Regions from separate parts of the Homo sapiens genome. Here regions 1, 2 and 3 are each linked to region 4. Evidence: fine-mapped expression QTL. A gene starts in region 4. Each other region holds a variant in brackets. All regions are shown on one strand. Distances are between the middles of the regions. Region 1 overlaps NTNG2 (netrin G2). Region 2 overlaps TSC1 (TSC complex subunit 1). Region 3 overlaps TSC1 (TSC complex subunit 1). Region 4 holds the start of TSC1 (TSC complex subunit 1).

Region 1 (8,251 bases), 690 kb before region 4:
CACCTGCAGGTGCTCCCAGCACTGGCTTCTGCCACCACACCTGTTCTTTCCCAGCTGCGAGGTTTAGACCTGGGTCCTTCCCTTGAGTCCCCAAAGCTAAGCTAAGACCAAGTGGAACAAACTTGGCCTTGGGGACAGCAGGAGATTACAACACAGAAAAGGAGGGGGAGGCACAACGGGACACTGCATAGGACTCACAGTGTCCCGAGCCCACACACCAGCCCCTCCTGGCCTCCTCTCTCTGCTCCCACCCCCAGCACCCTGCTGACCCGGAAGTGCCTTCCGACAGGCCCTGCATCCTCCTGCAGCTGGCCCATCTCTACCCTCACATTCTTCCTTACGCACAGAACCCCACTGCCTGGGACCCAAAGTGCCCAGATAAAATAAAACACCTCTCTGGGGCTTCTTGTGGATAGGAGTGGCCAGGGGACACAGCTCTGGGCAGTGAGATGTAAGCAGGACTGATGGGTGGGCTTCCAGAAAGTTCTTAAAAGTCATCCCTTCCTCCACGCCCCACAAAGCCTCAGTTGTCCAAGTTTGTGGCTCTGGTTTTTCTCTCTCATCCCTCCCTCTGCTCTTCAGTCAGCAGGATGGGGAAGGAGCCTTCTTGAGACACTGAGCATAACAGTGTCACCCTCAGGATAGTGAAGGGTGGAGCCGGGGGTGGAAGTTGCAGAGCCTGGGACACCTGCCTTGGCTGCAACCTCTGCACTGCTTTTATTTATCTACTTATTTTTATAGAGTTGAGGTCTCACTATGTTGCCCAGGCTGGTCTCAAACTCCTAGGCTCAAGTGAGCCTCCGGCCTTGGCCTCCCGAAGTGCTGAGATTACAGGCATGAGCCACCGCACCACCTGCCTGTCTTACTGTGTGAGAAAAAAAATAAACGGTGATGTGATTAAAACACTAGAATTTGGGTTTTCTGTTCCATGCACACTTTCCAAGTTCTTGGCCCTGCCTGATTGGCATCCGGGCCCCCTGAGCCCTCTAAGGCCAGAGAGAGACTGAAACCCACCCTTCCTTGGCCGCAGCCCCCCATGGTGACCCTCAAGTCACCAGGAAGAGGAATGTCCATGACTCAGGCCGAGGAGTCCACCTCTGTCCAGAACAGGACTGCCCCTGCCTTCTAGTGAGCACAGGGCAGCTGAGCAGAACTCACCCCAGAGAAACAGCAGCGCTGGCCGCAGTCGGTAAACAGCAGGCATTTCCTCCTAGTCATCAAGATGATAAAATGTCACCTAGAAGCAGAACTAGAGGCAGAACTTGAGACAGGGACAGCAGGGCCCAGCCCCAGTGGCCAGCCCTGGCCGGATCCACGAGGCTGGGGGCCCTGGAGCGTCAATGACATCCCAGCACTGTTCTTGTCTGGAGGCAAGTGGGCCACCCTCTGTCAGGCACCAGTGCCAGGCTGGCATGGGGGCTGCAGTAGAAGCCCCTGGTGCAGAAGGTGGGCGGCTGGGGGCTGTGAAGAGGCCCACACGGTGGTGCAGAGGGCATGCCTCTTTATGTCACCCTGGGTGTGTCCCCGAACACCCTCGAGGGGTCTGGGAGGTGGGGGGCCTCTGTGGGCAGTCACTCTGTCCTCCTTGACCTCCGTCAGCTGGGCCCACACTGCGTCAGCTTTTCTGGCACCGGCCTGTGCATTCAGGGCTGGGGAGGTGGAGCTCTTTGTAAATCAGAATGGCAGCCCCAGTCCCCGGGGACACACTCAGGCCCTGACCTCCCCGGAGGGTGGAGGGAATGTTGCCAGTGGCCATTTGGAAAAACTCTGACATCTTCCAGGCAGCAGGAGGAGAAAACGAGGTCAGCAGAGCCAAAAGTCCTAGGCCATCCTCTTTTCAAATGGCACACCCTTGTCCCCAGAGCTCATATTTTGACACCTGGTTCTGGGAGGTGAGGAGGAAAAGGCTCCCATTGTGCGCCTTGGATCATCATCACCGCATCCCCAGGCGCTGCGCTTACATTACTGCATCAACCCTCACCTGCACCCTAGGGCAAGGTTTTCAGCCTCAGCACCATTGACCTGGGGGGCTGGGTAATTCTCCATGGTAGGGCGTGGGGGCTGCCCTGTGCACGTGGGATGTGCAGCACCATCACTGGCTTCCATGTGGCACTTCAATGTGCACCGTCCCCAGTTGTTGCAACTCAAAGTGCCTCCAGTAATTGCCAAATTGGGGGCAAAATCGTCCTAGATTGAGACTCGCTGCCTCAGGAGGAAAGGATGGTCATGCCCATTTTACAGAGGGTAAGTGAAGGCTGGGAGAGGCAAAGTCACTTGCCTGGGGTCACAGTTTCTAAGAAGCAGAGAGGAGAGTTGAACCCAGGGCTGCCTGACTCCAGAGCCCAGTGTTTCACCCCCAGGCCAGGCAGCCCTGGGCAGGCATTGGGCATCCACTCCCCGGCGGGCGGCTGCAGCTGCCCCCCCACCTCCATGCCTCCAGCTGCCTGCCTCCTTTGGCGCCCACAGCCAGGTCAGGCTGAGCAAGGAACCCTGGGGAGCCCAGCTTCCTCTGAACCGCTCTGCTGTCAGGGGAAACGCCTCCCCTGGCCCTCTGCGGCAGCATGGCCTGTCCCCTGCCCCCACCCACTCCCCTAAATAAGCAGAATTGCTGCGTCGGCATTTCCTGCCCAGCTCATGCCTTACAGTTACGAGGCATTTATGGGAGCTTGGGGAGCAGCCAGCAGCATCTCCCGGCAGACCTGAGCCCGCCTCCCTGTCTCCCCAGGGGCCTGGTCCATCCCGGCACATCCCAGCCAGAAGAGTTAAGGGAAAGGCCCCAGGAAGAAAAACATTACTTATTTATTTTTCCGTTTAAACCACCTGTCACAACTTGTAGGAAAGTTCGAAAATACAGAAAAGCAAAATCATAATAATTTTTCTATTAAACTCACCCACAATTCTTCATCCAGAGCTAATAACTGTTAATACTTTTTTTTTTTTTTTTTGAGACGGAGTCTCGCTCTGTTGCCCTGGCTGGAGTGCAGTGGCACGATCTCGGTTCACCGCAACCTCCACCTCCTGGGCTCAAACCATCATCCCACCTCAGCCTCTGGAGTAGGGGGAACTGCAGCTGTGCACCACCACGTCCAGCTAATTTTTCATATTTTTGGTAGAGGCGGAGTTTTACTATGTTTTCCAGGCTAGTCTCGAATCCCTGGGCTCAAGCCATCCTCACTCCTCAGCCTTCCAAAGTGCTAGGATTACAGGTGTGAGCCACCACGTCCAGCATAACTGTTAATGTTTTCTGATAGATATTTCTAGTGTTTTTCCATAAAATAAAACCCACACTCAGACATCGCCCCCCACCCCTGCAATTGCTAAGCCCTAGCACTGAGGCTGGACATGCCTTATTTCAAGGGTCCCTTCAGTGATGCTGAGCGTGGGATCAATTAATATAATATGGCCATCTTACAGCTCCACATACCAGGGCTCTGAAAGCGTCCTGGCCAGGGACCTTAGCCACAAGCACCGAAACAAAACACCAGGTGATTTAAGAGGCAGAGGAGATTAAAGGATCACAGACCCCTCAGACACATGTCAGGAGAACAAGGTAAGAGTAGGGAAAGTGGGCCACGCGGTGGCTCACACCTGTAATCCCAGCACTTTGGGAGGCCAAGGCAGGCAGATCACCTGAGGTCAGGAGTTCGAGACCAGCCTGGCCAACATGGCGAAACCCCGTCTCTACTGAAAATATAAAAATTAGCCAGGCGTGGTGGTGGGCACCTGTAATCCCAGATACCTGGGAGGCTGAGGCAGGAGAATCCGTTGAACCTGGGAGGTGGAGGTTACAGTGAGCCGAGATCGCGCCACTGCACTCCAATCTGGGCAACAAAGCAAGACTCCGTCTCAAAAAAATAATAATAATAAAAATAAAAACTAGCTGGGTGTGGTGGCAGATGCCTATAGTCCCCCCCCCAACTTGGGAGGCTGAGGCAGGAGAATCCCTTGAACCCAGGAGACGGAGGTTGCAGTGAGCCGAGATCACGCCGCTGTACTCCAGCCCGGGCAAAGAGCAAGACTCCGTCTCAAAAAAACAAACAGCTGGGCTCAGTGGCTCATGCCTCTAATCCCAGCACTTTGGGAGGCTGAGGTGGGTGGATCACCTGAGGTCAGGAGTTCGAGACCAGCCTGACCAACATAGAGAAACCCCGTTTCTGCTAAAAATACAAAATTAGCTGGGCATGGTGGTGCATGCCTGTAATCCCAGCTACTCAGGAAGCTGAGGCAGGAGAATCGCTTGAACCTGGGAGGCAGAGGTTGCAGTGAGCTGAGATTGTGCCACTGCACTCCAGCCTGGGCAACAAGAGCAAAACTCCATCTCAAAAACAAACAAAAAAACAAAAAAGAGGAGGTAAAGTGGAGTCAGGAAGGGCACCCAGTATCCCGCCCAGGGTGGCTGGAGAGCCAGAGCTTCAGATGCTGCCTTGGGCGCTGCCCTGGGCACATCCCTCACCCCCAGGGCTACCC[C/T]CTGCTGGCCTCCCCACCACAGCCCCCACCACGCACCCGCACCCTCCAGTCCAGCATTTGCCACTCCAGCAAGGGGGGGTGGGCTCTGTTTCCTCAACCAGAGGAAGAAAACAAAGAAAGAATGTCCACCACGGAGCGGGTGTGTAAGTTGCCCGGGGTCGCACAGCCAGGAAGAGCCAGAGGCCAGGATTCAAATGCACTCTCTTGGGCAGGCTGCACAGCCCTGCACCTTTTTTTATTTTATTTTTTCCCTTTATTTATTTATCTTATTTATTTTTAACAACAATGGCCTCATCGTATACACATCCTTCTTTAGCCTGCTATATAAAACTTAGCACTGTATCTAGACTATCAAAGGAGGCCTTTTAAAATAAAAGAGAGGCCGGGCGTGGTGGCTCACGCCCACAATCCCAGCACTTTGGGAGGCCGAGGTGGATGGATCTCCTGAGGTCAGGAGTTCGAGACCAACCTGGCCAACAAGGTGAAACCCCCTTCTCTACTAAAAATATAAAAAATAGCTGGGCGTGGCTGCAGGTGCCTGTAATCCCAGCTACTCAGGGGGCTGAGGCAGGAGAATCGCTTGAACTCAGGAGGCAGAGGTTGCAGTGAGCTGAGATCATGCCATTGCACTCCAGCCTAGGTGACAAGAGTGAGACTCCATCTCAAAAATAATAATAATAATAAAAGAAAAAAGAAATGCAAGGCCAGGCACAGTGGCTCATGCCTGTAATCCTAACACTTTGGGAGTCCAAGGCGGGCGCATCACTTGAGGTCAGGACTTCCAGACTAGCCTGGCCAACATGGCAAAACCCCGTCTCTACTAAAAATACAAAAATTAGCTGGGCGTGGTGGCAGGTGCCTGTAATCCCAGCTACTCGGGAGGCTGAGGCAGGAGAATCGCTTGAACCCGGGAGGCGGAGGTCGCAGTGAGCCTAGATCATGCCACTGCACTCCTCTGGGTGACAGAGGGAGACTCCGTCTCAAAAAAAAACAAAAAGAAATGCAAAGCCCCACCTTTCATTTTTTGCCCAGCCTCTCACCCTCTTCCCCTCCCAGCCTGGGCCGGCTGGCAGTGGGACTCTGGCTCCCAGGGCAGGGGGTTGCCATGTACCCTTCTGACACCTCAGGGTCTGGCCCAGTGCCTGTGCTCCTGGTGGCACAGGAGACCTTGCTGCCCCACAGGGGCGGCCAGGTGGAGGCACCTGCGGCCAAAGTGCTCCAGATGGCTTCCAGCCAGAGGCTCTCTCCCTGGATGATGGAGCAGGTGGCCCTTGGGACCCAGCCAGGAGTAGCTGGAGTGAGGCCCAGAGTCCTGGGAGCTCGTGCCTTTCACTGCTGACCCAGTGCCCGCATTTCTGCCCCTGAAGGGGAGGGCAGCTCCTCAGGCAGAAGGACGGTGAGCTCTGGAACCTGATTTGGGCTTGAAGCTGTACCCCACACCTGCCAACTATACATCCTTGGGCAAGTTCCTCAGTCTCTCTGTGCCTTGGCCATCTCATCTGTGAAATGGGGATGTTAAAAATAGCGCCTGCAGGGTGGGGCCGTTGTGAGGAGTGAATGAGTTGAGCCGCGCAGTGTTTAGAACAGGGCCTGGCACCAAGTCAGCCATCCCTAAGTGTCAGCTGCTGTGATTGCTTTGTTTCCTCTGTGCCCCCTCCCCAAAACCTGCTAGGAGGGTTCAGGCTCACTCACACCTCCTTTCTCACTCATCATATTCCTGAGCACCTCAACGTGACCAGCCTGGCCCAGTGAACCAGACAGACACAGGCTCTGCCCTCCCGGAGCTCCCGGTGGGCCCCTCGCTGCCACCTGCCTTACACACCAGGCAGGATTGAGATTCTTTGTAATCTGCAGAGGGGCCCAAGCTTTTGTGCCAACAAGAAGGACCAGGAAGACTCCCGAAGCCCCTGCCCACCCCACCACCCTCACCTGGCCAAGCCCGGCCTGACTCAGCAGGCCCCAGAAACCTCGGTGCCTGTTCCTCAAACACCCGGACACCTCCTTCCCCTTTCCCCTCCTGCCCACAGAGGGCTTAAGATTGGGGATGGGGTTGTTTGGGGGGTAGGGGATGAGGGCAGAGGGAGGCTCACAGGACTGGGGAGGTGGGGCGTGAATGGGACAGTTGGGAACCAGGAAATGGAGTTTCCAGCGCCCTTCTAGCAGGCACAGCTGACTGTGCCACCTGCCTTCAGAGGTCTCCCCATGCCCAAGAAAGGACGCATGGGCCCCCTGGCTTGGCCCAGCAGGAACATGAGGGCCAGGCAGGGCCAATTCCCAAGAAGCTGAGCCTGCAAGGGACCCGTGGAGAAGATGGGCCTATAAGTTGAGGACGGGGCTCCTGGTGGCCCCCACAGCCCAGGCCAGGCTTGCAGTGCTGGGGAGTACAGGCCTGGACAATGCCTTTGACGGGGTGGCTTTGAGACCTGTGACTCGAGTTTTACACAGCCAGGCAGCGCTAACCCCGGAGACCAGGATCCCGACCTCTGGGTGTCAACACGGCGCCCCCTGCATTTCCAGGGCTAGGACAAGAGCACAGATGGAGGCTCCTGTACCACGTGTCTGGATATTTAAAGCCGCCCATCAAGCTGTTGAATAAAGTTCAGCCAGTCCTAGACAAGCAATCCCTTCACAGTGACCTGAAAGGCTGGGCTCAAATCTGTACCCTTGGACTCCTCCAGCTGTGGCCAGCACGTGGTGGGGTGGCTGGGCCTGGCTTCCCCAACCAGTCACCCTACCCAGGCTCTGATCCTGGGTGGCCTAGAAGGAGTGTGCAGGCTCTGGGGGGCACGCCCCTTAAGCCCATGGCGGGGTTGGGGAGGCCCTGAGCAGGGCTGGAGATACCCAGCCTCACCTCCTGGGGCCCCCTGGGGCCACAGAAGCTATCAGGCAGCCTCTGTGACCCCTCTTGGAAGACCGGCCACAAATACCCACAGTCCCATGGTGCACATAGGGGCAGAGCTCTGGGGTAGCAGGAAACCTATGAGTGGAGACATTTGGGCCCACCCCCAGCCAGCCAGCTGCCTGCTTGGCCAACGGCAAATGTGTACTGCTGTGCGTGCCACGCTGGACAGCCCTGTGCCAGCCACTGGGGCAGCCAAGGGAAGTCTTGAGTGAGAAGCAGCCTCAGTTCAGACTGACGTGTCAGGGGGACGTAAGCCCTGGTGTTGCTGGTTCTTTAGATCAGCATTTCCCTGGGGACAAGTTTCGTGGAAGACAATTTTCCGATAAATAATCAGAGTGGGGGATGGTTTTCAGGTGAAACTGTTCCATCTCAGATCATCAGGCATTAGATTCTCATAAGCAGCATGCAACCTAGATCCCTTGAATGCACAGTTGACAATAGGGTTCATGTCCTATGAATCTGGCAGGAGGTGGAGCTCAGGCAGTGATGCTCACTTGCCACTCGCCTCCTGCTGTGTGGCCCCATTCCTAGCAGGCCATGGACCGGTACTGGTCTGTGGCCTGGGGGTTGGGGACCCCTGCTCTAGATGTTTCAAGAAAAACCAGAAATCTCAAGTTTAATGTCAACCTTTGGATTTTCAAACATTGACAACTACCTTGTCTATCTTTAAAATCATGGGGACCAATTCTTCAAAAAGTCAAACAGAATTCACATAAGATCCAGCAGTTCTGCTCCTAGTACAGGTCCTCAAAGAATGGAAAGAAGGTATTCAAACAAAAGCTTGTACACAAATGCTCACAGTGGCACGATTCACAATAACCAAAGGCTACTGGGAAAACAGCACAAAAGCCACATTTGGGAAATAAATTGTCCATCAACTAT
Region 2 (8,202 bases), 47 kb before region 4:
TCATGATTGAGTTATAAAACTAGATTATGTCTTAGCAAAATCTGTTCCTCCGTAATATATTTGTGGTCCATAGAAGTCTTCTGAAAAGTGATTACTGATTCTTCCTAGTGCAAAATGCGTGGCTGCCTCTTTCATAAGCCAAAGTACTTGCTACACAGAGCAGCACCATACCCTCCTGTCCAAACACTGTAAGAGGTGGGGAAAGGGAGGGAAGGGTTGGTCTGGGGGTTCTCAGACTCTCAGGGTTTCCACTGAAAGGTCCATTCCAATGGTTAAACCAGCCTACTTATCTCAGAGGATGGATAATGTGGCGCTGCGAAGTGGGGAGGAAGCTCCTCTGCCATCATTAACTCGTTTCATGACCAGAAGCCATGGGCACAGGTGCTCGGCTCTTCCAGGCAGGCTTCCCTTGTAGCTACAGCTACTCTTCCCTCAGGCGAGCAGATAAGGACTGCAGGACGGCATGGAAGAGACAGGAACACGCTCCCCTGGGCACATCGAAGAGTCCCGGACAGGCAAACAAGCCACATGGGACAAGGGTCACAGCAGCAGCCTAGGGGCCAGTCCTCGACCTAAACTTGTTCTTTCACCTACAGACAAAAGCTTAATCAAGTGCAATCAATGCCTTGGGATCTTTGCAGCAATCTGGGGGGCATGTGTCACAGAACTCTGGATGTAAACAGATACACAAACATCTTCAGACTGGATACATTTTTCCAATACTTGTTGCGGGTCGGTTTTAAAGCATGTACCCTGGAGAGTGAAGGTGCAGCAGATAGGTATACTGATTTGAGTCACTCCACACCAGGCAGCTTCCTTCTCCAGGTGGGGCAGAGCCCCCTGGGGGAACAACTCTCCAAGAGTATCCGCAGGAGGTGGGCGGCACCCCATCTCACCAAGGTCCTGGCCGGGTCTTCGCTCTGCCCAAACCCTCCTCCAGCCTGTGCAGGCCTCCTCCCACCTCTTAGTGCTTTCAGCGAGAAAAGGTGAGTCTCATTACGCAGAACTTTTGTTTGCTCTTCGGTTCTTTCCTTCTTCAAGTGGTATGCTCTACTATTTGGTAGAAATTCACATTGGCTTGTCACAGCACACTTCAGTTCTGCTGGCTACATGAAACGCATACCCAGTTTTCTATTCTTAACAGTGAGTCTGAGCCTCTGTGGTCTCAGAGATCCTTTCATCCCCATGACCATTTTATACATCCTCCCCTCAACAACTGCTAGAGTTTTATCTTTCCCAACAAATATACCAGAAACTATGTGTGCTGTTGCAAATGGGGACGGCCCAAGAGTCTGGAGTTTTGTTCCCTGCTGCCCTGCTTTTACCCAGTAATGTGCGGCATGGTGGGTGAATTTTTCTAATTGTCCTGGGTCGTAACAGTTCACCTTCTCAGAACAGTTTGGACTGTTTCCCCAACCATGTCACATAAGCTTTGGCTCACAAAGTAGCTCACCTCTCGCCTCTCCACTCTTCAAGCTTAGTAAGAAGATTCCGCAGCTTAGTCCCAAAGGTCAGGCAGTTTTCTCTCCTGAAAAACTCTGTGGACACACCTAGAGAGGTCACTGTCTGCCCACCTGCCTTAGTAATGCTGGTCCTAAAACTCATCTCCAAGGACATCTTTCACAACTTCTCCATCTAAGAAATGACCTTGACCTTCCTACCTTTGGGTTTGTTTTTTTTCTATTCATGACCACGTGTTTCTTCCAATCCCATAATAACAATTTTTATAGACTGTATAGCAGAGCCTTGTCAACGGCTTTTTGAAAATCCATCAAAGTTCTATCAGATGCAGATCTGTGTGTTTATTCACCTGCAGGGACTCCGGAGCTCATTTGCTCTGCGTCTTCCTATCCCCCTCCCCGCTAAAACTGTAGTGCACCTTTTTAAAGGAATTCCATGCTGCACAGCAGCAGACTTCGGGCTCCTCGGGGCCTGTGCTGACTCTGGTTAGTGTCAGGTGGGGATCCGAGTAGGTTATGCACATTGGCCAAACAGCTGAGACAGGTATGCTCACCCATAGTGATTTCTGGATGGAGGCCATCCAATCCCAATATTTATGAATACCAAGCTGCTTAATTGGTTTCAAGGTAGACTCTGCCCTTAACGCTTATTGTACTAATACCTTTGCCCAGGACTGAATTGCCTCTCGAGAGTAATACTGTCACCTTTCCATCCTTAGAACTACCCACTGCAGCATGATCAAGTGACCTGTTGACTCTTGGCAGGTTTATCATGTCCAAAACCAAACCAAACCTAACTACTGACTCTGGAGTTCTTTGCAACATGAAAGCCTACATTTTTAGGTTGGGCACCTTCAACATGACTCCAGGTCTCATTCTCCCAACCGTAGTTGAATAAAACCCACAGCCTCCTAGAACTCAAAGGCACCTGAGCTTGGAGCCACATTTGTTATAAAGCTGAGTAAAAGGACACCCAGGCCGCATGGATGAGCTGAGGACCCTGTGCAGACACGTCCATGGAGCTTCTAGCACAGGCCTCTCTCCATGCTGCCTCCTTTCTTCCCTTTATTTTTATAAGCTGTCCGTTTCTAAAATGTTTTTTCTTTTGCACTTGGGCCTCTTTTCCTTTCCAATTCAGGAAAAGGCTTTAAGTGCCTGGTATCTTGTTCTATGGCACAGATCTCTTGGGCATGAGGAGAAGGAAAGCACTTAAAACCAGTTTCAGGATTCACTGATGGGATTTCCTTCCCTTTCTAAGTTTGTTCACGTTTTCCTTTTCTAAAACGGAACCAGGAAACTAGACTGTATTGGGTTTTAAGCTTTCCTTTGGACAAAGCTGAATTAAATGTGTGGTGTCACTAATACTCCACATCTGACAATTCAGTACCAACTGCCAGCCTGTGCTAGGCTGAGTAGTTGGGACCACGCCCTGCCACAGGCTGGGAATCAGTCACACCCAGAAAGCCTGCCTGAACAGGTTTTCTGCTGGTATAGCTAGGGTGACAGAGTCTCTAACTGTCTAGTCCCCTTTAGTTAGGGATGCTAGAATATTTATTGCCATGCTAAAAAAAAAAAAAAAAAAAAAAGACTTTCATTCTCTCTGCTCGAGGCCTCCGTGGGCACTAAGATTTCGTACCGTGACAGTTTTTTACCTCTTTATGACTGAATCCTTCTATTCTTTTTAATGAAAGATAGAAACAGGAAAGCCAAGTTCACTGGCTCCTTCCTACCAAATCCCCCTGCCTCAGCTGGAACACCAGACCACAGTTCTTAGGCTTCTAGCGTTTCTTTCAGGAGCACTTGTTGAGTTTGGATTCTCTGCCACTGCCAATTTTCTGACTAGTGTCATCTCTCGGGAGCACGTGGGGCAGCCTAGTGGGTATACACAGCCAGCCTTTGCCAGCATTCTCCCGGACTCTGTTTAGACTGCTCTGCCATTACTAACATGGAGAGTGTGATGACATCAGCTCCCTGGAGAGTCAGCCCCTGAAAGTTGGAATTGGTATGAAAAAGCTGCCCCTCTTCTGGTAGCCTAGAACCTGCTACAGTGAGGCAACCCTAATGGCCTGGGAAATGATGGTCACATACACTTTGCAGAAACTCTTTGGACCTTCAGAGCCTTTCTGCTGCAGTGTCACATATAAGCTGACATGAACAAGAGGCGTATGCACACAAAGGGAGGCCAGTAGACAGAAGGGTTTAACAAAAGGCCCAGCAAGCTGAGATGGCCTAAAGGTGCAGTTCCTCATGCTCAAGTGCTTCTCGGGTAACCTCTCCCAGTGACTGCTCCTTCCCTCCTATGGAGAACAGGTTTTACCACCTACACACCAGCCTGTGGTCACAATAGTACCAGCATTCAAGCAAACACCAAATAAATAAGAGGTAGTGGGGGAAGAAGAGACAAGAGCTTTCCCAAAGGGTGTGTGGTCTCCACAGTGCCAGCTCCAGATTTCTGAAACAGGCTTCTGTTTACACAGAACTTTCTAGGAAGCTTATCAGAACTGCCAAAAGAATGCAAGTATGAATAAACCGTTGTTCTTCTAGACCTGCTGCTTTAGATGCTGAACTTCAGAATCAAAAAAGCAGTCGGAAAGTCTCATGTAAACGCTTTCATGTAAAGACAACCAGCTTTGCAGGCTATGTCCTCCTGGAAGGGACAAAACCAGACTTACCTGCAATGCAACAAACTACCTGGTCTAATTGAGAGCCAACCCAGTTATCTGAACTTCGGGAAAGCAGAAAGTGGTGTGTTAGACTCAAAGATTAAATTTGGCCTCATATTGCACAGGTTCAAAGGACGCAACCATTTGGGGGGGAAAGGAAGAAAGTAAAGCTACTGAGGAACACCAACTGGCCCTTGGATTAGAACACACTGCGAGGTAAATGAGAGGGGGTTAGGGCGGGTGGAGGGGAAGGTCAAGAGGCATTTCAATGCCAGATCCAAAAACCGTTCTGCATTCAGTCAGCTGTCCAAAGGACCTCCGTCCCATTTCCACACATGAACTTGCACTCAGACCCTGGAAACAGGAAAGCTTTGAAACGTGCATTCACACCTCCTGTTCTGTGCCAACAATATGCAAGTTAACACTGATTGACCATCATTCCTTAGCTGTGTTCATGATGAGTCTCATTGTAGTCCATGATATGTAGCTGTCCAACACTGTCCGGGGTCGGGGGAGACGGGTGAGGGCCATCTAGGTTCAGGGGAATCTTGGCTTCCACACCCAAGTCTTTGCCCAGTTCTGTCTTTAGGCTCTCAGAAAGGCTACTGGTCATGCCGTCCTCATCACACTGGCTCTCGCTCTTATTACGAAATAACTCTCGAGCCTTCATACCCAGGAAGCTTTTTGAACTGGGAAGTGAGCCCACAGTGGTGGGGATGCTGGCAGACGCTTCTCCCATAGTCGTCTCCCACCGACTGCTGAATGGGCCTGCCCTCTGGTGTGGGGGTTTCTCTGGGGTAGAAAGCTCGCTGCTGCTGCTGCTGCTGCCTCCACCACCTCTGCTTCCACTACTGCCCCGGGCGCTGCTGGGCCTGGGGGTCTTGGTCTCACCGTTGTGGCCAGATGCCTCTTCATTGTGCCCTACCATGGAATCTGAGCACCCGTCATTACAACAGTCAAGCCTGTAAGAAAGCCGGGGAGGAAAAAAGGAGCTGGTGATTGGACTGTCCACATTCGGAGGATGTGGAATTACACTGACACTCACTCACACTGACACTGAACTCCGCTAGCCCACTCTCTGTTTTATAATACTGGACTCAAGAGATCTCATCAAGAGAAACCTAAATCACAACTAGGGATAGTAGGTGGCAATCTTAAGTGTGAACACTTCCTGTGGCCATATGGAGGGACTCAAGGCCAGGAACACGAACACGAAGAGATCACTGGGCGTTTTGAGGAAAGGAACGTCAGAGTGGGTCTCTGACACGGAGTGAGCTGAGTGTTGCAGCCTGTCTAGTCAGCAGTAACTGCTTCCCACACCACGTGACACAGTCCTTATGCTGGAATTGGCAGCTTAGTCCCAAGGTCATGAATCAGTTCTTTGTTCCTACCTTTCTTCTGCTGCTTCAGCTGCTTCTGCTTTTTCTTCTTCAAGTTTTTTCAGGAGGCCATCTTTCTCCAACCTGCCATATAAATCTAAGATCTCCAATTCAAACACCTGGGTTATCCTTTTCTGAGCCTCATACCTGCTCTCTGC[G/A]GCCTGCAGCTGTCCTCTGAAAGATACAGACCAGCCAGAATATAGGAAGTTCCACTTAATAAAAACACAAAAGCCTTTCCTGATGAAAGTTACCTTGCCTGGAGTTTGACATCCTCTAGATATTTCTTCTGTTCCAAAAGAAGGTGGTCTTTCTTGGCCAGGTGAGATTCCAGTTCCAAAATCCGTTTTTGGGAGGTATCAAGCCTCTGAGTCTGCTGGAGAACATGGCTTCTGTTTTTTTCTAGCTCTTTCCGATAGGCGGCTTTCATCATTTCTACTTCCTGAAAAAAAAAAAAAAAAAAGACTGGAATTAGTACTTATAAAAAATAAACATGCTGTATCCATTTTGAAAAGACAATGTAAGAAGGACTGAGAAGGCATTTTAGTATACTGATAACAGAAATATAAACTAGTACAACTTTATGGAAAGTAAGCTGGTAGTATTATCCTAGTAACCCTTCCTTGAAATCTATCCCCAAGCAAATCATGTGAAACATAAATAGAGATTTTGCACAAAAATAATCATCACAGCATATTTATAAGAGCAAAAACCTGGAAACATCGTTTAAGTCTAATGTCAGGGGAACAGTTAAGTAAATTAAAATACATCCTATATTTCTAAGTCTTTTTAAAAAATGATATGGTGTCAGTAAAAAGATTAAAAAGCAGACTACAAGACTGTGTGAATAGTACAATCAACTATGCGAACATATACATATACAAAACACCAAGTGAAAATACGCCACTATCCAGTTATCATTTCAGTCCAGTGGTACCGCAGGTCACTTGCTTTCCTTTCTCCTTTTCTCCCCCTCCTGACAATAGCGCAGGTGAGGCTACAGAATGGAATGCCAATGGAGCAGGTCTGCTCAAGCAAAGCAGCCTTTGCAGACTGGATGCCCTGACAAGGTTTGTTGATCGTGCTAAGGCAGATGGCCTGCTGCCGACAGATTGGAACAGCTTGAAACCCAGAGCAAGTACACACTAATGCTCAGAAAGAAGGCGGAAAGGGTATTTTTTTAAGCCTGTGTTACATTTGTGTGTGTATGTTTACCGTGGTAAAATATACAAAACACAAAACTTGCCATATATTTGTTTTTTAAAAAAGATAATAAACCATAAACAGCAAGGAGATGAGCTTTCACGAAGGCGCCCTGCCTTGATGCTGTCTGGTAAGCCCAATGCTTCCTTGTTATAGAACGCAACTGATTGAAACTCAGAACTGGCTCTCGGATAATGCGGCTGTTCCAGCTGTGCTAAATGGCTCGACTTCAGCACAGGGTGGATGAACGCATCTATCTGGCCTTCGTCATAAACAACAGGACTTATTCATGGATAATCATGCAAAGCATTGAACCAGGAACATCCGTGCACTCTCACTAATCCTTACAGCTACCCCTACCAACTGTTCCCACCTGATTCCCCACCACTCACTCTTCCTCCTCCTTTGGATGGAACAAGAGCAACCCTAGCTCCAGGTTCAGGAGCAAATCCTGACTGGGTTGAGGCAATGACTAGGCTAGGGATGGGCACAGGACAGGCCTGGCCAACAGGGGTGATGAGAAGTATGGTGGGATCATCTGGGAAAGGTTTTCTTTTCCTTTTCTTTTTTTTGGAGACAGAGTCTTGCTCTGTTGACCGGGCTGGAGTGCAGTGGCGTGATCTCGGCCCACTGAAACCTCCGCCTCCGGGGTTCAAGCGATTCCCCTGCCTCAGCTCCCCAAGTAGCTGGGACTACAAGTGTGCGCCACCACACCTGGCTAATTTTTTGTATTTTTAGTAGAGACGGGGTTTCACCATGTTCGCCAGGATGGTCTCGTTCTCCTAACCTCGTGATCCACCCGCCTCGGCCTACCAAAGTGCTGGGATTACAAGCATGAGCCACCACGTCCAGCCTGGGAAAGATTTTCTTGCTGAGGAATAGGAAGAGATGCTCTCCTCTTCTGTGGGGACATCATTGTGTCTGCCTGTCATATCTGTGCCTGTGGCACACACCTGGCAACCATGAGTGCAGCTAGCTGGAAGACAAGGTCTGCAGGATAAGCAAGGCAGTGCAGAAGAGTGGAAAGAGCCTGGCTCCTCGATGCTGTCCCTGAATGGCCAACTTGACCAACCTGGAACTCACCTGCCTCACAACCTCTTGTCAAGTGAAACAATACAGTTCTTCACTGTTAAGCCAGTTGAGTGCTTTTTGTTTTTGTTGTTTTTTTGGATATTGTTAGGCTTGGTCTAGAACTTCTGAGCTCAAGCAATCCTCCTATTTCAGCCTTCCAAATAGTTGGCACTGTAGGCATGTGTCACCGTGCCCAGCCCTAGTTTGGTTTTTGTTGTCTACAATTGAAGGCATCCTGACTATCACAACTCAGCTGCATCACCCGTTTTATGAACTGGGAAACAGGGCCCCATGGAGAGGCAGCTACTCAAGGTCCCAAACAGCACAAGGACTCCTTGGAGGCCGCCCATCTAGGCTTCTCTCAGGAGATGGCCCAGGCACGTTTCAGCAGCTTTTTCAGGAGCTCTCTTGTGCCTCGGATCTGTTTCT
Region 3 (5,000 bases), 31 kb before region 4:
CTTGGACTCCCAGAGTGCTGGATACAGAAGCAAGCCACCACGCCCAGCCGCAAAAAGTAAACGTATGTTGACAGACTTTTCAAATAATCATCTTTGTTATTACACCAAAATTTGATAAGTGTTAGTTTCTTAAAGTTACAAAGTGAAATTTGAAACCACATCAATGAGCTTTTCCTGTGTTAAAACCCACTAGTCTACCTTGCACTTTTTTTTTTTTTTTTTGTGACAGTCTTGCCCTGTTGCCCAGGCTGGGGCTGGAATGCAGTGGTGTGATCTCGACTTACTGCAACCTCCGCCTCCTGGGTTCAAGTGATTCTCCCGCCTCAGCCTCCCAAGTAGCTGGGATTACAGGTGCCTGCCACCATACCCGGCTAATGTCTATATTTAGTAGAGATGGTGTTTCAACATGTAGGCCAGGCTGGTCTTCAACTGCTGACCTCAAGTGATCCACCTGCTTCAGCCTCCCAAAGTGCTGGGTTACAGGTGTAAGCCACTGCGCCCAGCCTGCTTTGTACTTTGAATGTACTTTTTACCTATGCATGATTCTGCAACGTATCATACATTGGACACTCTGAAAATATTGGCTCCTCAAGCTATTCAAATATTCCAAATGTTGAAACACTTCATTATACAATATCAAAAACTCAAATTACTAACTAAGCTTCCACAGACTTTTCGGTCTCATCATAAAAGTCCTGGGGCAGCTATCAAGTTCATGGTAGTATATACACGTTTTTTAATATCTTGATTTCCACCTGAGAGTTGACTTTTATTGTTGGCAACAAATACTGTCAGTTGTTTATCTTGAAGTGACAGACTCAGCTCATCATTTGAGAAGCTGCCTGCCAAACACCCAAGTCTGAATAACCAGTTTGTAAGACAGCAGTTCTTTCAAATAAAACTGGCATTCCATGAAAAAAGGCAGCTACTTCACCTCTCAATTCAAATAACTGCATGAGGGCCAGAGGTCACCATCATACCCTGGTATGCAGTACATGTGCCTTATGCATATTTTCTATTTTGCCACGAAGAATATTACACATACATGTTCTCAAGGGCTAAGATTTAATAAAATTAATAATGGTTACTGCTTAATACAGAACACTCAACTTTTAAAATTTTTTAGTTTTTATTGTTTTTAATGGAGAGAAGATGTCAGGGAAGAATGCAAGGCCTCTTGGGATAGGACACTTCAATGCCTGCCTTGATTCAGGCTAAGTTGCCACCATTTCACCCCCCGTCGTATTTGTGCCATCATTGCAGATGCCAATGCAGTGGGAAGGGCAAATGACAGCTTAGTGTTACTATGAAGGTGGGTTTGGTCAGGTGTGGTGGCTCAAACCTGTAATCCCAGGATTTTGGGAGGCCCAGGTAGGAGGATCGTTTGAGTCCAGGAGTTTAAGACTAGCCTGGGCAACATAGTGAGACCTCATCTCCACCAAAAAAAAAAAAAACTTAGCCAGGCATCATGGCACATGCCTGTAGTCCCAGCTACTAGCGAGGCTGATGCAGGAGGATTGCATGAGTCTGGGAGGTCAAGGCTGCAGTGAGCCATGATCGTGCCACTGCACTCCACCCTGGGCGACAGAGCAAGACCCTGTCTCCAAAAAAAAAAAAAAAAAAAAAATCAAGAGAGTAGGTTTGACCTGCTGGGTTCCCCACAAGAGTTCTGCCAAAGCAGAGTTTTGGAACCACCCAGGGGTCGGCAGATCACACCTTGAGAGCAGCTTGTTAGTCCATTTTCAATTATTCTGATTCAAACCCATTGCATTTTAGGTCAGAATTCTATCTGGCATAATTAGGCTTCTCAAAGTGAGGCTTGCAAGTGAGTCACTGTGCCTGGGCAGAGGGATAGCAGACGAGCTGGATCGCACCTTCCTGGGGGGTGTGACTGTGGCCTGGGGGAGTGAAATGTGCACGTAGTCATCCGAATGACAGAGTGGGGCTGGAGGAGGAGAGGTTGCTGGGGTTCCCAGAGGAGTTCCTTTTCCACCTGCTTAGAGACAAGGGCAGAACATATATGAACACTGAGCCCAACTATTAGAAAAACTGCCGATTTTTTTTCAGCCTATAACTATTACTATAAATAAAGCTGCTAGAGTTAACTTTCTGGGGATCTAGATCAGTCTCTCTCTTTTTTGTTTTTAGGTTCACTTTACACATTCTGAAAGCCCCAGGGATTTGCAATAAGTGTCAAAAACAAGTTTACAACAGCAAGTGGTCCCTTAGATCTAAAAGAGAGCTCCTCCTGCCATTAAAGGCAGGCCAAAACCAACTAATCAAATCCAACCTAAGACATACATACCAGTTGTACCAAAGACTTTACTGTAAGGGTGTGACAGATCAGGTGGGACATTTCCAGGAGAAGTTGGAGGAGTGGTCATACCACAAACCATAGATGGGCTCCAAAGAGTAGCCTGGGAAGTTAATAAAGTACATCAGCAGTGGCAAAGGAATGCTAAGTCATCCACGAGGTTTATATCCATGGCC[A/G]GTGTTCAGCTTAAATTTAGCTTTTTCATCTAGAAAAAGGCATCTTATTAAAAGCGTATCAAGAAACAAGTTGCATTTTGTAAATCAAGACTTCAAGATGAATCTAAGAGGCAACAGTAACTTTCTTTGCTAATATCATGGATCCTTAAAAGTGACTCCTGAAATGAGCAGTGTGAAATTTTCCCAACCACATACTAAATCTGACCCAAAGGGTCAGCTTCACCAGAAAGCAGAGGAGAGAGCAGGCACACTAGTTGACACCATACTTGTGGTGGTTCAGTTATCAGCCGTGTCGATGGGGAACTCAGAGTCTGAGGTAGCTGCCCTGGCATATTTAACAACATCAGCCGAGACGTGGAGTAAGGGGTAGAAGTAGCACACCCTAAAATGGAAGAGAAGAACACAGGGGGTTAGTGTGTGGTTTTAGGTTATTCTGGTTAAAAAAAAAAAAAAAAAAAAAAAAAAAAAAAGATGGTCCTCTAGACCATTTGATAATATTCAATTCTCTGTACCTAAAAAATCTGAGGGACTTAACTGACATCCTTGGGGACAAAGTAACACTTCAGAGTTTCTCTAAATGCTCCTTTGAAATAAAGTTCAATAAGGTTTGATGTCTCATTAAGCCTCAAGATAACTTAAAAAAGCACAATACAGATGACAACTTCAGTGGCTGCAACCCACAAATAAAGCCTAGATTTTTATATGAATCCAATTCTAAATTGTTCCGACTCATTCAAACTGTGTCAGTGCTACAGACACAAGAGCCTCACTCTAAATGTCTGAAAATCAGAAAGATTCCCTTATGAGGTAGAGTCTGGAAGTCAAATACTTAAACCCATTTTCTTTCTTAAGTGTTGGAGACACGTCACCAACTCTGTTGGCATACAATCAGGTAGCAGACCAAGGACATCTAAATTAAACTTGAAGGAGAAATTAATTAGAAGAAAATGGAGGGACATGCAAATTTAAGATATTTTGGGAAAAATCCCTAGGAACTGAACTAAGTCTTACTCCAGAAAAGAAAATCAACAAAGACAAATAATGTTTTCCAGAGACAAAGTTGCAAAACAGATAAGTACCAAAGACACTTTTTACCATAGCTATTCTGTGTGTCAGCATAAGGGCTGGTGGTGACATCGGCTGAACGATGAGGAAAGCGGGCTGAGATTTGGTGAGACACAGAATAGCCATCTTCATATGAGGCTTCTGTGGGATCCAGAGAGATTTTGGCACACTCGATCACAACATCATGAGTTTCTAATCTCTTCCACCTGTAAAATGCAATGAAAGTCAAGAAATGCAAACTGTAATCAACTGAATTAAATACTTCAGAGTGTCAACTCAGTGCCAGCCACGGAACTCTGATAGCAAAGAACAAGCGGGACCATGCCAGCCCAAGTCTGAAACAATTCTAGTACATAAAGAAATAGCCATTCATTTTACAATCCTATACCTTCCCTGTTTAAAATGGTTATATCAAGTTTACAAGCTAATCTGAAACAAATATTTCCTCAACAAAAGACTAGGTGTAGCCTCAAAATGGAAAAATGAAACATAAGCTATGCAGCAGAGCAGCAGGCAGGGAAAAATGTCCTTTGGAACAAAGGTCATCAAAAAATAGGGAGACCTGGAGACTGCCAAGCAGCTGAGGCTGACTTAAGGTCTCCTATCAAGGCCTCAGGTGTCAAATCCATCCCTGGACCAGAAACAGAGTATAAAAAGACAAACTAAAGAAAGTCCATGAGAATTTTTTTCTTTTTTTTTTTTTCTTGAGATGGGGTCTCACTCTATCACCCAGGCTGGAGGACAGTGGCATGATCGTGGCTCACTGCTACCTCCAACTCCTAGGCTCAGGGATCCTCCTGCCACAGCCTCCCAAGTAGCTGGGACTACAGGCACGTGCCACCGTGCCTGGCTAATATTCTTACAGAAATGGGGTCTCACTTTGTTGCTCATGCTGGTCTCGAACTTACTGGCCTCAAATGATCCTCCCACCTTGGCCTCCCAAAGTGCTGGGATTACAGGCATAAGCCATGACCATGCCCAGCTGAAGGCATGATTTTTTAAATCAACGTGTTAGTATGGCATAATTTGCTTACAATAAAATTAGTCAATCTTGCTAAGTTTTGACAAAAGTCCCGATCATAATAAAGAACATGTCCATCACCCCAAAAGTTCCTTTGTGCCCTTTGTGGTGAGTCTCTTCCCCCACTTCTTGCAACTATCGATCTGCTAAAAGCATGCTTTTTCAGGGGGTGTAATAATAGTTATTCTATAGAATATAACCCTTTGGTTGAACTTTGGGTTATTTCTTCTTTCCATTACAAGCTGTGCTGTGCTGAACACTGTTGTATGTCTTGACGTACATACAGAAGTGAGCCTGTAATCCCAGCACTTTGGGAGGCTGAGGCGGACGGATCACAAGGTCGAGAGATTGAGACCATCCTGGCTAACATGGTGAACCCCCGTTTCTACTAAAAATACAAAAAATTAGCTGGGCGCGGTGGCGG
Region 4 (8,204 bases):
TTTCATATTTGACCCAAAAGTTGTGTTCTCACTTATGTTCATCATTATAACTTCACTTCTATAAGCAATCTTTCTGAATAAAATGTAGGTTTGAGGAAGAAGATAAGGGCTCTGTGTTTAAGTATTTTGAGATGAAACAGAAGGCACATAGATCAATCTGTTTTCACTGTTCATCTTAACTAATATCATTCTTTAGGTGTTTACAGACGGATGGCTTATATGCCTAGGATTACACATGAACTCTAGCCTAACAGCCATGGACAGCTGTCATTAGCAGGACCCGTACGCCATTTTTTTCACATATCTCTGCCCTAGCCAAGATGCATTATGAGCTGTGAGAGAGCCAAGAGTACACACAAACCTTTTGAAAATACTAGTGGCAGATACCTAAGATGTCTTTAGAATGGATTTATCTGAAATTACAGGTGAATATTCGAATTTTTCAAAAACAAGTGCTGTGATATGTGGCCTAGACACTACCCTCTACGACTCCTCAGGACTGTATGTAACATAAAATAGGTGACCGCATATCAATTTGCCTAAGATAATTTTGTACACATTTGTCTATGATGTAAAAATGTACTGCATGTGTAAATGAAGGCAGATGTCTCTTCACTATAACTTGTTTCCTATATTCAATTTTTTATCCATAAAAATTCAAGGACAATTCAGACACAGGTCCAGGCATGGATAGACTATTTTATTATCAGGTACAGTTAGATAGAGCAGAAATGTTACACTGTTAAGTTAATGTTCCGCTCTGGCTCAGGAACTCTCAGGTGACTTCTTAGGGTAATATTCTATCAAGTGAACCAAGACGCCTTCAGCACAAATGCATCTAAAAAGGGTAAGATACTTGCTCCCATTCTCTCTTCCTATCAGTGCCTAGAAGGAAGGAAAAAAGGGTAGGAAATAACTACTTACTATGTGAGAGTAAAACAGCTGATGGTAAAACCTGCCAACATGTGTAGTCATGTGTGATTGAATAGGTCTTAGTAGTTGGAGTCCCTCTCAAGGACAAACTGGGGCAGGAGAGCTCCAACTTGCCAGATTCTCCATTCAGAATTTCTGCCATCAGGGGCCTTGATGGATGGTTTGCTAAAGCTTATAGCCTATCCCAAAGGTGAAGAATCTTCTAGTAACTTAAGTGTAAGGCCAGAGCTTAATTTTGGTAAGGCGTATCTCTTCAATAAATAATGCTTACGTTTTGACTTTCTATTAACATGAACAACATTATTTACTAAGATAATACAGGCCAAACAGATACCATGTATATTTCAAAAAGACACTACGCAGAGCTTCTCCTAAAAGAGATACAAGCAAACTGTGAGATATCTTTAGGTTTCAGGTTTATAGGACCAAAATAGAAGTATTCTAGGGAAGAAGGGTATAGTTTGATAGTCTAGGGCAGTGGTTCTCAAAATGTGGTCCTGGCACCACGAGCAGGAGCCTGGGTATTTGTTAGAAATGTAAATTCTCAGGCCTTTCACTAGATCTCGGAATTGGATACTTTGGGGGTGGGGCCTTCTAGGTAATTCTGACGTCCACTAAAGGTTCAGAACCACTGGTCTAGGAAAAAGAAGGATGAAGGTAAAAAACATTCATTCATTAATATACCTCCTTTGAGGTTCAAAAGGAAAAAAATATATAGAGTGCATAAACCTTGGGGAAAAGGCCCAGTGGAATTCTGCCAGGTGCTAAAGGTACCAGCACAGACCGAATGCCAAGCCTGACAAGCACGTAGCAGGTTACATACCTGGGTACACTACAGAAATTTAACAAAGTAATTTATAACCCAGACAGTACATAAGGCCACCTTCTGACTTGGGCCTTTCCTGACTACTAGTTAAAAAAAAAAAAAAGTTTTTTAATAAAGCCTAAGTCCATTTTTAGAGCAGTAATCTATCTAAAATGATCAGCTGGGTTTCAAGCTGCGTCCATAAATTACCTGAAGCCATATCCAAAATCCCATGTCTGTATGAATTTTTTTGGTGATGATGGGACATAAAGGGTAGAAGAGAAATTTGGTCCATAGCTTCCCACAGATTTTCAGAGGGCAACTGAGTCCACACACCTTCCCACCACCACCAAAGTTAAGAACCACTGACCTGACCTGTGAGTTAATTTATGAGGTCAGCAGATGAAGCAGTTTATCACAGTGGAAGACTAAATGTTTGGGCTGTGGAGTCAACCAAAAAGGTTCATATCCCAGCTTAGCCACTGAATAAGTGACTATAGGCAACTTACTCTAAGCCTGCTTCCTCTTCCTATCCTGCCTCTTAAGGCTGTAAGAAGTTAATGGGGTATCAGACATGTAAAATACCACAGTGTTTGGCACATGAGTACTCAAAAAATATAAACTTTATTATAACAATATTACTACTTCACAAAAATGGATTGCTGGGTACATAATGCTTAGCAGTCTATCCATTTAACAACTGGTATTTGAAACATTGATACAACCATTGTATAACTTAAAATGGATACAGTTCAAGTTTGTTACTATGCTCTGTGAACTACTCAAAGTAGCAGAGTCTTAATGATTGCAGACATTAAGGTCACTGCCTCTGTTCTTCCTACAGCTCCCCTCTGTGTCTTCCATCACATCACCCACAGAAGGGCAAAACTGTCCTTTGTTACTCCAACACTTCTGGGCCTCTACTGCCATCATATTTACTTAAGAGAGTGACCTGTGAGTTGTAGGGCAGTAACTACTATGCTTTATTTTGGACTAAAGCATGGTTTTTAAGACATTTTACTTATTAGATGTAAATCTGAATTCATTCAACCGTAAAAAGTATTGTTATCTTTTGCTGATTCCATGTTCATAATAAAAGTTAGCACTGAACGAGAGAAAGGACAAGAAGAAACTGACAAGGTCCTGAGACAGTGTATTTTATACACAGTATATAAAATTTGCATTTTTATTCTCTCCCATGAAAACAGACATAAAGTTACTAATTTCTAGCAACTACAGTCTTAAAAAGTAAACCAGAGAAAGAATAATCTCAAACTGCTGACAGTTTACCTCTTTCAGATGAATTTAAATGGAGAATGAGTATTTCATGCTACCCAAATTATATTAGTTACCAATTCATGATCTGAGATTAAAAAAAACAAACTCAGTGTTTGAGTGTATACTACATATACACATTTCAAGCAAACAGCCACAGATTTTAACGCTATTAAGTACACTTTTCTTTCACGCCTTCAGCTACTTAAATGACAAAACCAATGCAAAGACTAACCTTTCAGAGATTTATAATATGGGAAACTTATAGGGAATTACCTTTTCAAAGAGTATTATGATGTAAAGGAAAGGATAAATGATAAACAGATCTTCACCCAACAGGGTAGGCTCAAAGTCACCAATTTGCTTGGTTTTTATAAAACCATTAACAGGTTGACTCAATCGATTTAGTCAGAATATTTAAATGACACCCCAAAGGACTTTAAATCACAGAAATGTAGGCCTAGAAATACTCATTAATTTACATTCCAACTTTTACTTCACAGATGAAGACACAGGCTCACAGAACTTAAGTGACCCACTGAAGGTCAAAAGCTATCTGACTCTCTAGAAAAGCCTGAAATGGTTGAGATATTGCTATATTTGGCTCATCGGCATTCAAGAATATCCAATTAATTCCAGGAAAAGCTAATTTTAGTTCACTATGGCCCTGGAACCCAGAAATAAACATACCTGTAGCCAAACAAACTTCAAATGAAGACAGAGCTATAAGAACAAGTCAGCTCTAATTCAGAGCCCAAAATTCACCCACCACTACACAAATAAAAGGCTACAAGCTATTTTAAGAAATACCTCTGTGATAAATAATAAATGAAAATAGCCAGAATGATACTTGAAGCCAGTGGTCCTCAACCTCCGGTGCACATAAGAATCAGTCTTCTTCCAAAATATATATACAAGGTGTCCGAATATGTAGGTCTACCTAGTATAGTGCCAAATATCTGTACATCAAGGTTCTCATGAGCACTAGGGTTTCAGATCTCGTTTCCACCAAGTTCATTATTCTGCAAACATTACATATAGAGGTATATATTAGATTTGCCCTAGTAAGACTGTTAAGTTTCATCTCACGAATGAAACCAGGCATGCACAGAAGGCATCATATTACACCACAACAGTAGCAGTATCAGTTTTTACTCTTAACCCAGTGAGGAAGAGGACAACTGAGTCACAGGACCTGAAGCACTCTAATTTTATGGAAACAAGAAGGCTGGTAGCCACCTGCTTTCTAACCAGGAATTTAGGAACGTACCAAGTGTTTATGACACCAGGAAATGCATGCAGCAGAGAAAGTTTACATCATCTGCCCTTCTAGGCACGTGATATAAGAGTGTTTTGGATAAGATATTAACTTTAGTAAGAGGATATTTTCCGTTTACATCTTCTATAAATACCCCTTAAGTTTACACCAGGTGGTTAGAGGAAGATTCTGCAGCTCCCTAGGGCAATAGCAAAGAATGTTTCACTGTTTCTGAGGAGCCTCATTTGCCTGATGCATGACTGTTAAAGGTGCATTTCCCTACACAACCCTAAATCAGTTTTCACATTTGCATATTCCAGATTTACTCAGGAATGTTCAATTTAAGAATCACAGGTGGTTGCTCGGTAAATCAAAGGCTCCCCAAAGATTAGGTTTTATAATGCTTCCTGAAATTTACAGCTCCACTTTGCCGGCCTGTTTGAATTCAGATGACTCCAAGTTGATCCCAAAATTATAAATCAAAGTATCTCAGAAGAGTATTATTCTATTTTAGCACTTTTATAGCTTACTCTATGCAACGTGAAGTGTTATTTGTATGCTTTCTATTTAAAAAAAAAAAAAAGCCAGCAAGGATTTTAGCAGGACTTCTTTCTTCAGTAAACTCATCAGTTTTATTAAACTATCAAATACTTTTTAGCCTAATTTAGACTAACAAGTTCACATGCACAACACTGCCATCCCAAACAAAAGCTAAGGCGGATAAGCCAAGTGCATCCCCCCACTTCAACATTAAACAGACACACGTGCATAAACCTTGGCTAAATGATAAATTTTAATCACTTACAGGCCAGCTTTGATCAAATAACAGATAAATTTAAGAGTCATATCTTTGGAGTCAGTCAGATCCCAGCAGTTCCAGTCCTGGCTCAGATACAATTGGGGTGTGAACTTAGGCAAAGTACCCTGCTCTCTCCGGGCCTCAGTTTCTTCATTTGAGAAGATTGGAGGTGTTAACAGTGGCTGCCTCTTCTCTTTGTCGTGAGGACCAAAGGAGATAATGACTGCCAAGCACTTTCACAGTGCCTGGCACACAGAGAGCACTCCATTAACGTTAGCTGTTGTTCTTAGGAGGACCGCGTCCCCTCCCAAGTCCTCACCACACATCCAAAACACACAAAGCAAAACTCTTTAACAGGAAACACAAAGAAAGAGCTTTAATTCTACAAGGTCCCTCCGATTGCAGGCTCTTCATCCTCCAGTTCCTCAAATGAATGAATGAACGCCTAGGAGGGGCTCTGCAAATAGCTGTCTCTTAGGAATCCCCTTTGCCCACTTTAAGGTAACTGTCTTTCACCACCAATTAAACACCCACAAGTACACCCAGAGCGAGTCATGCAAATTTCAGCGGAGACACCGAATCCAGGCGAGTCCTTGATCCCCACAGGCGACCTCCATTCATTCTCCACGCCCCTATACCCCGACCCCTCTCTTTAAGTTCTGGGACCAGCCCCACCCTCGCGACCCTTCCCCTCCCGCCAAGCGTCTCTACCCTGCCCTCCGCACCTAGCGTGAACCTGTCACCCCACCAAGTGAGGGACTGACGAAGGGGCCCACCTCGCCCCTGCCCGAGGGACCGAGGCCCAGGGTGCAGCCGTCCCCTCGGGGGCCAAGGAGGGGCGAAGTGCTCCGTCCGGCTCGCCTCTCCTCCCCAGGGACCCGCCAGTCCCGGCCGGGCCAGCCGGAGATAGCGTGTAATAAGAGGGAGGGGAGAGCTCTCCGAACCCCCCTTCCCCGGGATCCCTACCAAGCAAGTGAGTCTCTTGCTCCAGCCCCTCCGAGCCTCCCCGGCTGGAGTCATGGTGCCGGGGCTGCCCCAGGAAGCCCCCATAAAAAGGAGGGGGAGACACCCCCATACTCACCCACCGTCTCCTCCCCCTCAGCTGTTTACCTCACAGTCCCTCCAGCCTACAGGGCGCCGCCATCTTGGACGTACAGCACCTCCCCCGTCGTGAAAGGGCCAAGGCCGACGGCGGCCTCCGCCACGAAAAAGAGTCCCCCTCCGGACCTCCCCTCCTTCTCGAAAGGAAGGATAGACGGCCGCGCTCGGCAGCCCCGCCGGAAGGAAGAGGCTCTTCCACTCATAACTGACGATGTGGGTTGGACGAGAAAAAAAGTAAGGAGGGTTTTTATGGAGGGGGGCGGGGCCGGGCGGAAGGATCCGAAAGGAGGCTGCGAAGAGATCTTGTGACTCCGCGAAGGAGGCAAAAAGAAGGGCCGGCGCGGCGGGAGGAGCCACGCGAGAGCCCGAGGGGGCGGGGCGGGCGGTCACGTGACTGGCGGGCGGGGGGACGCGGCGGAGAGGCGTAAACAAGCTGGCGGCGCCTGGGTGTGGTTGGAGCGCCCTGCCCCTGCCCCCCGAGTCGTTTCTGCCCTTCGCTTGCGTGGCGCCCTCCGAGGGTCTCTCTGTGGGCGGCCTCAGAGCAGCGATCCTGTTTCCCAAGGAGCTGCTGGGGCCCGCGTGGGTGAAGGGCCTGCTTGGGAGCTTTGGAGTTGCAGCTCACCTGGGAAGGGGCGGAAAGCTGCGGGCCAGGGCAGCCCTCCTTCCTGGGCTAAACATTTTCAGAAGCCCGCCTCCGGGATTGCGGGGGACCCCCCTGGCTTCTGCCTTCAAGTAGCTCACACTTCACACCTACTCATGACATCTAGGGGAAACCAGCCCTAATAGGAGACAGCTTGAAAATCAGAACGCCTTATTCCGTTTCCTGCTGAAACAAGGCTTTAAGTCCTCCAAGCCTCAGTTTCTTCCTCTGTGAAATGGGCATAATGACATCTGTGACGTGAAGAATCAAGGAGATGAAGTATGGACAGCGTTTAGCCCAGAGTCCTGCGCCTAGTAAATGCTCACTCACTAGATAGGTGGCCTTTATTGCGAGGCTGAGTATGATGGGCTCCATCCAGCACGAACACAAAGCCCTGTGAGAGGAGGCAGAGTGAGATGAAGTCGAACTGTGGGATATGAAAGGCATTTTGAAGGAGTAGGCATCAGGTTGGGTTTTAAAGGAAATGTAGGTTTTGTGAAATACTAGGTCGGTGCAAAAGTCATCACGGTTTTTACCATTAAAACCGCGATGACTTTTGCATCAACCTAATAGAACCAGGCGAGGCGGCTCGGGAGAGAAGGCCATTCCAGGCAGAGGGAACCAAAGGAGCAAGAGCCTAGGGGCAAAAAAGTGTTGGGTGAGTTATGGGAATAACAGGTTTTGTCATGGGAACCAATTGGGTCACAGTGCAAGGCAGCCATGGTTAAGGGGGGCCAGGTGTGTGAGTAGCCAGCACCGTGGGTGCCTTCAGAATTCTGAAAAGGCCCTGGATGGTATCGGGTAGAGCCGCTGCTAGTCAGTATAGGGCCTTGGTGAGAATTAGAAAAATGGCACCCCTGGGCTGTATTTTGGCCCCTATCCACCAGCCCCAAACCCTCCTGGGCCCTTGAGCAGTGAACAACCTTTATAACCATACGTCTAGAGCCACGAAGGCTTAGGAGGGAGGTGAAAATTGAACTGATGATTCCTCTGTTCTAACACAGTCGCTGGGGGGAAGCTAAGAGTTCTAGATTCAAACAGACCAGAGTTTGAATGTAGGTTTCAGCCATCATGTTCTAACTGGATGAGCCTTAGTCTCCTCACCTGCAACATAGGGCTAATAATAATGCTAGTTCATGGGGATTTGGGGTGAAGTCAGTGAGTCATTAAGCTCTAAGTGGCACAGAGCCTACTCCAGTTAATGTTATTTTTGATAACTGTTAAGTGCCAGCTGTCAGCATCCATCACTTCCAGAAACGGGTCCACCAAACACTAAATTCTTCTGTGTCACCACCCAAGCATAGTCTGCATGGGGTCCAGAGATGGAAAGGTCGAGGGAAACGGGGAAGGGTCTGGGTTCTCTCAGTTCCACCAATCTGCAAACTACTTTACA

What was found.
Region 1: its variant is fine-mapped to the expression of TSC1 in visceral fat (GTEx, PIP 0.96).
Region 2: its variant is fine-mapped to the expression of TSC1 in whole blood (TOPMed, PIP 0.96).
Region 3: its variant is fine-mapped to the expression of TSC1 in whole blood (TOPMed, PIP above 0.99).

Annotation. Positions count from the first base shown.
Region 1 is chr9:132,243,624-132,251,874 of GRCh38, forward strand. It overlaps NTNG2 (netrin G2), which reads left to right. Exons shown (of 8, transcript NM_032536.4): 8 at 1-903. Among named protein-coding and RNA genes, the nearest start is that of NTNG2, 86 kb to the left of the region's middle. RefSeq lists enhancers at 1,397-1,902, 1,903-2,408. The variant C/T (reference allele first, on the strand shown) is at 4,468.
Region 2 is chr9:132,891,670-132,899,871 of GRCh38, forward strand. TSC1 (TSC complex subunit 1) reads right to left here. Exons shown (of 23, transcript NM_000368.5): 21 at 5,754-5,941; 22 at 5,515-5,676; 23 at 1-5,085. The coding sequence ends at 4,566. Among named protein-coding and RNA genes, the nearest start is that of SPACA9, 17 kb to the left of the region's middle. The variant G/A (reference allele first, on the strand shown) is at 5,661.
Region 3 is chr9:132,908,697-132,913,696 of GRCh38, forward strand. It overlaps TSC1 (TSC complex subunit 1), which reads right to left. Exons shown (of 23, transcript NM_000368.5): 9 at 3,586-3,761; 10 at 2,757-2,872; 11 at 2,306-2,417; 12 at 1,875-1,996. Among named protein-coding and RNA genes, the nearest start is that of SPACA9, 32 kb to the left of the region's middle. The variant A/G (reference allele first, on the strand shown) is at 2,491.
Region 4 is chr9:132,938,392-132,946,595 of GRCh38, forward strand. TSC1 (TSC complex subunit 1) reads right to left here and starts at 6,225. Exons shown (of 23, transcript NM_000368.5): 1 at 6,152-6,225. MIR548AW (microRNA 548aw) reads left to right here and starts at 7,316; the gene lies at 7,316-7,380. It also overlaps a transcript of GFI1B not described here. RefSeq lists silencers at 5,833-5,892, 5,953-6,012, 6,543-6,622 and enhancers at 6,097-6,830, 6,143-6,442, 6,803-6,942.